2 separate regions of the Homo sapiens genome follow, and region 1 is linked to region 2. A link means that fine-mapping ties the variant in region 2 to the expression of a gene that starts in the linked region. Tissue or cell type: whole blood. Region 2 holds a variant in brackets; the other region holds the start of a gene. All regions are shown on one strand. Distances are from middle to middle.

Evidence for each region. PIP is the estimated chance that this variant, and not a neighbour inherited with it, causes the effect.
Region 1: it holds the start of SRPK2, and the variant in region 2 is fine-mapped to the expression of SRPK2 in whole blood (INTERVAL, PIP above 0.99).

What each region holds. Positions count from the first base shown.
Region 1 is chr7:105,386,156-105,391,531 of GRCh38, forward strand. It overlaps SRPK2 (SRSF protein kinase 2), which reads right to left and starts at 2,766. Exons shown (of 16, transcript NM_182692.3): 1 at 2,636-2,766; 2 at 2,493-2,547. The coding sequence starts at 2,651. RefSeq lists silencers at 1,917-2,016, 2,117-2,236, 2,577-2,706, 2,737-2,806, 2,817-2,866 and 1 more.
Region 2 is chr7:105,446,166-105,451,541 of GRCh38, forward strand. No RefSeq gene overlaps it. Among named protein-coding and RNA genes, the nearest start is that of SRPK2, 60 kb to the left of the region's middle. RefSeq lists an enhancer at 2,004-2,123. The variant G/T (reference allele first, on the strand shown) is at 2,330.

The DNA of each region.
Region 1 (5,376 bases), 60 kb before region 2:
TACAAAATATTAGCCGGGCGTGGTGGCGGGCGCCTGTAGTCCCAGCTACTCAGGAGGCTGAGGCAGGAGAATGGCGTGAATTCGGGAGGCGGAGCTTGCAGTGAGCCGAGATCGCGCCACTGCCCTCCAGCCTGGGCAACAGAGCAAGACTCGGTCTCAAAAAAAAAAAAAAAACAACCTCTAACACCATCTCCGAAGACAGACATGTAAATACCTATTGAAGACATGAATAAATAAATAACATCAAACAGTTCTTTTAAATAATATCTTGATTCAGGTCGGGCACGGTGGCTCACACCTGTAATCCCAGCTGTGTGGGAGGCCGAGGCCGGTGAATCACCTGAAGTCAGGAGTTGTAGACCAGCCCGGCCAACATGGTGAAACCCCGTCTCTACTAAAAAATACAAAAAAAATAGCTAGGCTTGGTGGCGGGTGCCTGTAATCCCAGCTACTCAGGAGGCTGAGGCAGGAGAATCCCTTGAACCTGGGAGGCGGAGGTTGCAGTGAGCCAAGATTGGGCCATTGCACTCCAGCCTGAGCGACAAGAGCGAAACTCTGCCTCAAAAAAATTATTAAATAAAATTATGACTTGATTCAAAGAGTTAAGTGAAAAATGGCAATGCCTCAATCAGTTATATAATTGGGCTGGTCCCGTTACCTTACAGACTAGAGCCAGTTCGTTTCATCATTAGCTGGTGTGTTATTTTCCCCCTCAAATTCTATCACATATACACAATACACAGTGGGAGAAACTGGCAGATTAATCTGTGAGAGGAAAAGCTGAGTACTGTGGCTATTCACTAAGTCTTCATCAACATACCACATAAATCCAAACTGCGGCCCACCAAAAAGGCCCTCGACCATTAGGAAAATCATACTCTAATATATGCAAATACAAGACACATATTGACTTAATTAGAACTGTTTTTCCACATGTACGTAAAGGTAACATGCACATATACGTGTCTATTTGTATATACATGCACACATAGCCATCTCCGACACTGGGGTCATACTTTTTCCACTTGTTTTTATGTTTCTGAGTATAACAGACTACGTGGAATTAAATCAATGCTTTGAATTAAGAGCTGTGATTAAAACACAGTACTTATTCAGAATCCTAAACATTACAGTTCTCCTTACCACTGGGTAAACTTCCATGGTTCACCAAAGGAAATCTCAAATTTAAGGTTGTAATTCACTTGAAAGCTAGCACTAATTTTTTTAAAAGCAACCAAAACTACCAAAAATCCAGTCCATTTTAACATCTTATGAATTCAATATCCAATTTTTACCGACCAATTAGTTCTTCAACTCTTTAGGAAGTGCTTTCCCCTTACTCTAATGGTTTTTTCTTTTTTTTTTTTTTTTAAGGTATTTTTAAGTCACTATCCACATTTTGTGAAACTGAAGGACCAAGGCCAACGAGAAGGGGAAAAAAGTGAGCGTGCTGCGACGTACCCCTCAAAGGAAACAACCAAAAATGTTTCTGGATTTTATTAAAGATAATGCTGGATTCTCGTTCCCCACAGTACCAAAGATGCCACACAGAGTATTCTTGCTCAAAAGAGCGAAGCAATTAATCTAGAGGAAGAGATAACGATGTCGAACGCTGGTAAATCAAAAAAATTAGGAGAGAGGAGTGGAAAAGGAGAAGACGCGGCGGCGCTGTGCGGTCTCGGAGCAGCTCTCCAGGAAAGGGTTCTTGGGCAGCGGCCCCCCTGCTCGGGTGAGCGGCCAGGCTGGAGGTGGCCGCCACGGGCGCGTTTTCCACTCCGACCGGCTCCCGCGCACACGCCCACCGCCCTGCGCAGCCCGCGACCCCGGCGCCCGCAGCGCACCCAAGTCACGCTCAACCCGAGCGGAAAGTTTCGAATCCAAACCCGAGAGCCGAAACGCACAGGTCTCGGGGCTGAACTCGCGCCAGGAACACGCCCGAGGCAAACCACTTGACAACCAGCTTAGGTTCTCAGCAGAAAGGCCGACAGGCGGGGGCCGGGGAGGAAGGGGAGGCGAGACACACGCCCTCCCGCACACTCGGCCCCTCCGCCTCCTCGGCCCGCGGCTCAGGTGGGAGCAACGCAGCCGCTGCACTCCCGCAGCGGGCGGGCCGGAGCCCAGCGGCAGACGCCGGGGCCCCTTCCGGAAAGGGCCGCGACCCCCGGGCCAGCTCGCGGGCAAGGGACGGGTGCGCACGCCCTGCCCGGCGCCTTTCCGCCGGCCTCCCGCCCGCCGGCCGGTGGCGACCCGGGGCGGGAGGTCGCGGGGTCGAGGCTCCGTGATGCTAGGGAACCGGCCGCGGCCCGCGCGCCCCTCCCCCGCCGCCGCCCCTCCCCCCGGGCCGCCCGCCGGGGGCAGGAGCCGAGCGCCAGCGTCCCGGGGGACCAGCCCGCCCGCCGGCCCGGGGACCCGGACAACTTTCCCCTGCGCGGCCGCGGGCGCCCCCGACGGGGCGGGGGTGGGGAACGGGGACAGGCGCAGCGTGGACTCACTTTTTCGGATGTTTCTCTCTTTTCGGCCTCCGCTTTCGGGCCTGAATGGCCAGCACTGGGGAAGAGAAGACACACATTAACGGTCGGGCCGCCCGCCCGGGCTGGCCGCGTGGCGGGGAGAGGGCGCGCCGCGGGCCACTCACCTTTCCGGGAGCTCATTCCGACGCGGCGGAAGCGGGGCGGGGGGCTTCGCGACGGCGACGCGGGCGCCGAGACGAGCTGGGCTGCAGCCTCCACTCGCTCCGCCGGCCGGGAGGAGACGAGAACCGCGCCTGCGCCGCCGCCGCCGCCGCCGCTCCAGCAGGGACCCAGCAAGACCCGCCCCCGTCCGGCCCCGCCCCCGCCCCGCCCCCACCCGCCGGCCCCGGGGGTCGGGACCCCAGCGCCGCGCGCCCAGCGCCCCGCGCCCCCGCCCCACCCACCTGTGCAGAAGTGGCCGCCGCCCATGGCCGCGCTGGCCCTCGGCCTCCCCCACCCCAGCCCGCGGCCCGGGCCTCCGCCTCCTGCGATCCTGCGGCTGGCCCAGGCCGCCCGCCTCTCCCGGGCACCGGACCCGCGGGACCCTCCCTCCCCGCCGCGGCCTCTCCCCTCCGCACCCCGGCCGGTCGCGCCGCCCGCTGCTCCATGCGCCCGTCCTTGGCCGGCGCCTCCGCGGGTCTCGCACCACCTCTCTTCCCGCGGCCTCTTCTCTCCCTTTGCTCCTCTACATCCTTGCAACCCCATGAGCGCCGCTTCCTCCTCTCCGGCAGGCGTGGAAAGGGCACACGACCAAAAGCTGGGAAACCTGGGTCCGCGATTAGCGGTGTGACCTTGGAGAAGTCATTTTCTCTCCCACCTCTAAGTGCCCTCCAGGATTGCATGAGTTTAATGAAGGAAAAGATACAGATAGCATTCAAGGTAGGACAAAGGTTTTGCACATGAATTGAAACTCGCTTCCGTAAACACCAGGTGTATAACAATTCAAAACAACAATCACACCAAGTAGTTATTTTCTGCATCCTACAATGAGGAAACTGAGTCCCAACGAGGTTAAAAAGTTTAACCAGCCAGGATCGAAATTCAGGCCTGGCCGTCGACAAACCACCTTATCAGGCTGCCTACAAAAGATGTGAATCAAGTTGATAGTGACACAAAAAGATAACTGCAATGTTCTCTTATTTATGTAAATAATTACAATAGTTTTTGAAAGATACGCATTCTGACTATTAACTCCCTCATTGGTCACACAACTGTATCTTTGACAAGGTGGCTTACACTAAGGATGATAAATCAGAACGGGAAACTCTGCTTGGATTTTGAAGAGTCCTTAACTTTTTATATTCAAAAAAATATCAAACCCTATAGAAAAGTTACAAGGAAAATACAATTAACAGCCAAATTAACCCATATTCACCAATTTTTAACATTCTGCCACATTTGCTATCTATGTGTCTGTGTGTATGGTTTATTTTGCTGAATCACTTGAGTTTTTGTAGACACTGTTACCCTTTATCCCTAAATATTTCAGTACATATCTACTAAGAATAAAGATAATCTCCCACATAATCAGAATTCCATGATCACTCCAAGAAACTTTCATACTAATACAATGTAATCATCTGTAACATACAGGCCATATATATTCAATTTTGCAAAATATCCCAGTAATATCCCTTGTCGCTGATTTTCTTTTTTTCCCAATTAGTCTACCATTAAGGATCATCCGTTGCATTTAATTGTCATGTCTTTTTAAACACCTTTAGTCTAGAATCATTCTTGGTTTTGTGTTTTGGTTTTCTTTCTATTTATTTATTTATTTTGAAATGGAGTCTCACTCTATCACCCAGGCTGGAGTGCAGTGGCGCAATCTCAGCTCACTGCAACCTCAGCCTCCCGGGTCCAAGCCATTCTCCTGCCTCAGTCTCCCGAGTAGCTGGGATTACAGGCATACACCACCACATCTAGTTAATTTTTGTTTTTGTTTTTTTTTTTTTTTTTTTTTTTTTAGTAGAGACAGGGTTTCACCCTATTGGCCAGGCTGGTCTCGAACTCCTGACCTCGGGTCATCCACCCACCTCAACCTCCCAAAGTGCTAGGATTACAGGCCTGAGCCTCGGCACCCAGCCTTTTTTTGTTTTGTTTTGTTTTGTTGTTTATAACATTGACTTTTTTGAAGAATCCAGTTCCACCATTTTGCAGAATGTTCCCTGTTTTGGATTTGTCTGTTTCCCTATGATTAGATTCAAGTTAAACAATTTTGTTGGCTATACTATAGATGATGTTGTATTCATCTTAGTGCATCAAAATATGATGTCAGTTTGTTCCATTACTGGTGATGTTACAGTTAATTATTTCTCCAAGATACAGGTACCTTTTCCCTCTGTATTTAAGAAGTCTGTATGAAAAATGAGCAAAGGATTTGAATGGACATTTCTCCAAAGACATGCAAATGACCAAACTAGCATGTGACAAGAGAATTAACATCATTAGTTGTTAGGAAAATACAAAGCAAAACTATAATGAGCTACTACTTCACACCTACTAGGATGACTATAAAATTTATTTATTTATTTATTTATTTATTTATTTATTTATTGAGATGGAATTTCGCTCTTGTTGCCCAGGCTGGAGTGCAATGGCACGATCTCAGCTCTTCGCAACCTCTGCCTCCCAGGTTCAAGTGATTCTCCTGCCTCAACCCTCCGAGTAGCTGGGATTACAGGCATGTGCTACCACGCCTGGCTAATTTTGTATTTTTAGTAGATCTGGGGTTTCTCCATGTTGGTCAGGATGGTATCGAACTCCCAACCTCAGGTGATCCACCTTCCTTGGCTTCCCAAAGTGCTGGGATTACAGGCATGAGCCACTGCGCCCGGCTAAAAATTTTTGTAATGGAAAATAAGGC
Region 2 (5,376 bases):
GAGACTTTTTCAAAAAACAAAAACTGAGGGAATTTATTGCCAGCAGACCTGCCTTGCAAAAACTGTTAAAAGAAGTTCCTCAGTGAAAAGGAAAATGATATAGGTCAGAAACTCTCATGCATATCAAGAAAGGAAGAGAATCAGAGAAGGAATAAAAATAACCTTTTACTTTTCTTATTAACTGATCTAATATATGACCATTCAAAATAATAATAGCAAGAAGGAATTGCATGATTATAGCATGGAAATGTGAAATCAATGAAAGCCGTTTCTTTGCTTTAGAAAGCAGTAGAAAGGAGTTGCAAATACTGTTTTTTTGTTTGTTTGTTTTTGTTTTTTGTTTTTTAGACAGAGTCTCACTCTGTCATCCAGGCTGGAGTACAACGGTGCAATCCCAACTTGGGATGCCTCCCGAGTAGCAGGGATTACAGGTGCCTGGCACCGTGCCTGGCTAATTTTTGTATTTTAGTAGAGACGAGGTTTCACTATGTCAGCCAGGCTGGTCTTGAACTCCTGACCTCACATGATCTGCTCACCTTGACGTCCCAAAGTGCTGGGATTATAAGCATGGGCCACCGTGCCTGGCCAGCAAATACTGTTATAAAGTATCTGTACTATCCATGAAGGACCTGTACTACTCATGAAGCAGTATGGTGTTATTTGAAAGTGGACTTGGTTATGAATGTATATTGCAATTTTTTTTTTTTTTTTCTGAGATGGAGTCTCGCTCTGTTGCCCAGGCTGGAGTGTAGTGGCACAATCTCGGCTCATTGCAACCTCCGCCTCCCAGGTTCAAGCAATTCTCCTGCCTCAGCCTCTTAAGTAGCTGGGACTACAGGCACCCGCCACCATGCCTGGCTAATTTTTGTATTTTTGGTAGAGACGGGGTTTCACCATGTTGGCCAGGCTGGTCTCAAATTCCTGACCTCAGGTGATCCACCTGCTTTGGCCTCCCAAAGTGGTGGGATTACAGGCGTGAGCCACCGTGCCTGGCCAGCAATTTTTTTTTTTTTTTTTTTTGAGACTGAGTCTCGCTCTGTTGCCCAGTCTGGAGTGCAGTGGCGCTATGTCAGCTCACTGCAAGCTCTGCCTCCCAGGTTCCCGCCATTCTCCTGCCTCAGCCTCCCAAGTAGCTGGGACCACAGGCACCTGCCACCACGCCTGGCTAATTTTTTGTATTTTTAGTAGAGACGAGGTTTCACCATGTTAGCCAGGATGGTCTTGATCTCCTGACCTCGTGATCCACCCGCCTCGGCCTCCCAAAGTGCTGGGATTACAGGCGTGAGCCACCATGCCCAGCCAGCAATTTTTTAAAGTAGTGAAAAATTCACATGGTAAGAGAGGAGAGAAAATGAGTTATTGCTCCAAGCACAGATGACAACTCCTGGAAGACTGGGCCCAAGTTCTGGAGGGAAGATGATCCTACTTGGCATCACTTCGTCTTCCTACCTCTGTGGACAGCCAATCCCACCCAGATGGGACTGTGTACAGGCTTCTTCCTTAGCCTGCAACAGTGGGAACTGATGGTGCTGTGATGGGTCCACAAGGAGACATGTGCAATGGAGTTGATGACAATGTTGTTTAGGGTGATGAGGAGTTAGAGGCAAATCTGATGTCCATCCCTGGAGCTCCGTGTAGTCCACGTGTGATGGGTGCACTCCATGGAGTACTCTGCAACAGTTAGCATTGAGGGATTCTCTGGAGAAAGCTGAGGTCCGGAGGAGGGATGTGGATCTCTGAAGGTCTCTGAGCAACAGTCAGTGGCAGGGCCAGGACTTCAGCCTGTGCATTTTGACTCCTGGTTTGACGTCCTTTCCTCTTTATCACAGCAGCCTCCAGTGCTTTATTTACTTTTGGATTTTCACCTTTTGGAGTTATCCACATCATGACTTCCTCCTAATTAATGTGCAGGGGTCCTAAGAAACCAGGATGGCACAGGAAAGAAACAGACTTTAGCTCCACTTTATTAGACAGATATTATTATTAGAAAAAAGGATCAACTAAGACTCTATCATCTTTCCAGCTAATGGAAGGTGGCTAACTCGTTAAGTGGAATGACTCTGTGTCAGCTTGACGAGCAAGTTTTTTGGTAGTGAAACATTTGTCTAGGCCAAAACAGGTAGTAAGATCTTCTATGTTGAAAATTAATTTTGTAAACAGGAAGAGAGAAATGTAGAAAACAGGATGAATGTGGCTAGTAGAGAACAGACGTGGGTGCTGGGCTAAGGAGAGTTATGTTCCCCATTTGCAGCTCTCAGAGGGTGCAGGTGGAGTTGAACTGAGCTGAAACAAAAGCGTTCCCAAGTGCGCCTAAGTGGTTTTTTTTGTT[G/T]TTGTTGTTGTTGTTTGTTTGTTTTGAGACGGAGTCTCACTCTGTCGCCTAGGCTGGAGTGCAGTGGCGAGATCTTGGCTTACTGCAACCTCTGCCTCCCGGATTCAAGAAATTCTCGTGCCTCAGCCCAGCAAGTAGCTGGGATTACAGGCGCCCACCACCACGCCCGGCTAATTTTTGTATTTTTAGTAGAGACAGGGTTTCACCATGTTGGCCAGACTGGTCTTCAACTCCTGATCTCAAGTGATCCGTCTGCCTAGGCCTCCCAAAGTGCTGGGATTACAAGTGTGAGCCACCGCTCCTGGCAGTGCCTGACTATTTTCATCCTGTAAAGTTATGGTTGTGAATTCTTGCGCTTAACCCTGAGCCCTCCCAGTCATGAAAATCCATTTTCAGATGGTTACTGTGGACACTGCAGCAATCTAGTTATTATGGACACCATAGGAACTTAGTTTAGAAACAAAATTTCAATAAAGAATAACTCCTACAGCCTTTAAAACCCAACCCTCAGCTGGGCGCAGTGGCTCACGCTTGTAATCCCAGCACTTTGGGAGGCCGAGGCAGGCAGATCACGAGGTCAAGAGATCGAGACCATCCTGGCCAACATGGTGAAATCCCGTCTCTACTAAAAATACAAAAATTAGGTGGGCGTGGTGGCATGTGCCTGTGGTCTCAGCTACTCGGGAGGCTGAGGCAGGAGAATCGCTTGAACCCGGGAGGGGGAGGTTGCAGTGAGCCAAAATCACGCCACTGTACTCCAGCCTGGTGACAGAGCAAGACTTTGTCTCAAAAAACAAAACAAAACAAAAACCCAACCCTCAAGAAAGTAAAGATAGGCCAGGCTCAGTGGCTCAAGCCTGTAATCCCAGCACTCTAGGAGGCCGAGGCAGGCAGATGGCTTGAGCTCAGGAGTTCAAGACCAGCCTGGACAACATGGTGAAACCCCATCTCTACCAAAAATACAAAAATTAGCCTGTAGTGGTGTGTGCCTGTAGTCCCAGCTACTTTTAAGCCTGGGAGGTTGAGGCCTCAGTGATCCGTGATCGTGTTACTACAGACAGCCTGAGCAACAATGAGATCTTGTCTCAAAAGAAAAAAAAAAAAAAAAGAAAGTAGACAACCCATGGAATGGGAGAAAATATTTGCCAATCGTATACCTGGTAAAGGATTTGTGCCTAGAACATACAAAGAACTCTAGATCTCAACAACATAAAGAAAAATAACACCCCCCAAATGGGCAAAAGATCTCAATAGACATTTCTCCAAAGAATAGACAAATGGCCAATAAGCATACAAAAATATTCCACATAGTCATCAGGGAAATGCAAATCAAAACCGTAGTGAGAAACCACTTTATTTTCATTTGTTTAAATTTATTTTTATTTTTGCTTTTGAGATGGAGTCTTGCTCCCTCGCCCAGGCTGGAGTGCAGTGACGCAATCTTGGCTCACTGCAACCTCTGCCTCCTAGGTTCAGCAGTTCTCCTGTCTCAGCCTCCCAAGTAGATGGGATTACAGGTGCCTGCCACCATGTCTGGCTAATTTTTGTATTTTTAGTAGACATGGGGTTTCACCATGTTGGCCAGGCTGGTCTTAAACTCCTGACCTCAAGTGATCTGCCCAACTTGACCTCCTAAAGTGCTGGGATTACAGGCGTGAGCCACCACGTCCAGCAGAGAAACCTCTTTATACCCAAAAGGATGGCTACAATCACAAAGACAGATAACAACAAGTGTTGACGAGGATGTGGAGAAAATAGAACTGTCATACACTCCTAGTGGGAATGTAACATGGTGCAGCTACTTAGGAAAACAGTCTGAGAGTTCTTCAAAGATTAAACACAGTTATATGACACAGAAATTCCACTCCTAGCTTTATACTCAAGAGAAATGGAGACATATGACTGTACAAAAACTCATACCAAAATGTTTATAACAGCATTATTCATAAAAGCCAGAAGGTGGAAACAACCCAAACGTCTATCAATTGATGAACATGAATAAAATGTGGTATATTCATAGATGGAGTATTGTTTGCCTAAATAAGGAATAAAGTACTTTTACGTCACAAACTGGATAAACCTTGAAAACATTATGCTAAGTGAAAGTCAGTCCCGCATATTGTATAATTTCATTTATATCAAATGACTAGAAGAGACCAATCAACAGAGATTGAAAGTAGCAGTTGCCAGGGGCTGGGGCTGAGGTGATAATAGGAAGTCAACGCTAATGCATTTGAAGTTTCTTTTTGAGATTATAAAAAAATGGGCCGGGCACAGTGGCTCACGCCTGTAATCCCAGGGCTTTGGGACATTGAGGCAGGCAGATCACGAGGTCAGGAGTTCAAGACCAGCCTGGCCAATATGGTGAAACCCCTGTCTCTACTAAAAATACAAAAATTAGCTGGCCATGGTGGCACGCACCTGTAGTCCCAGCTACTTGGGAGGCTAAGGCAGGAGAGCCACTTGAACCTGGGAGGCAGAGGTTGTGGTGAGCTGAGATCACGCCACTCCAGCCCGGGCAACAGAGCGAGACTCTGTCTCAAAAAAAAAAGTAAAAATGATTGTGATAATGGTTGCGCAACTCCAAATATACCAAAATCCTTTGTACACTTAAATGAGTGAATTGTATGGTATGTAAATTATACCTCAATAAAGCTATCATTAATAAAAGCCAAAACAAAACCTCAGCCCTGCCTAATCACCTTGCCATCCTGTACAACCTGAGTTCTTAGCTTCATGTGCTGTTTTCACAAATTTTTTTTTACTTCTGACTCTATCCTTATTCTCATCTCCCAAACCTCAATTTATATTCCATGAACATGGAATTTAAAATCTAAATAGAAGGCTGGGCACAGTGGCTCATGCCTGTAATCCTAGCTACTTGGGAGGCTGAGGCACAAGAATTGCTTGAACCCGGGAGGCGGAGGTTGCAGTGAGCCGAGATCACACCACTGCACTCCAGCCTGGGCAACAGAGCGAGAACCTGTCTCAAAAATAAATAAATAAAAAATAAAATAAAATCTAAATAGAGGCTGCACTGAGGATTA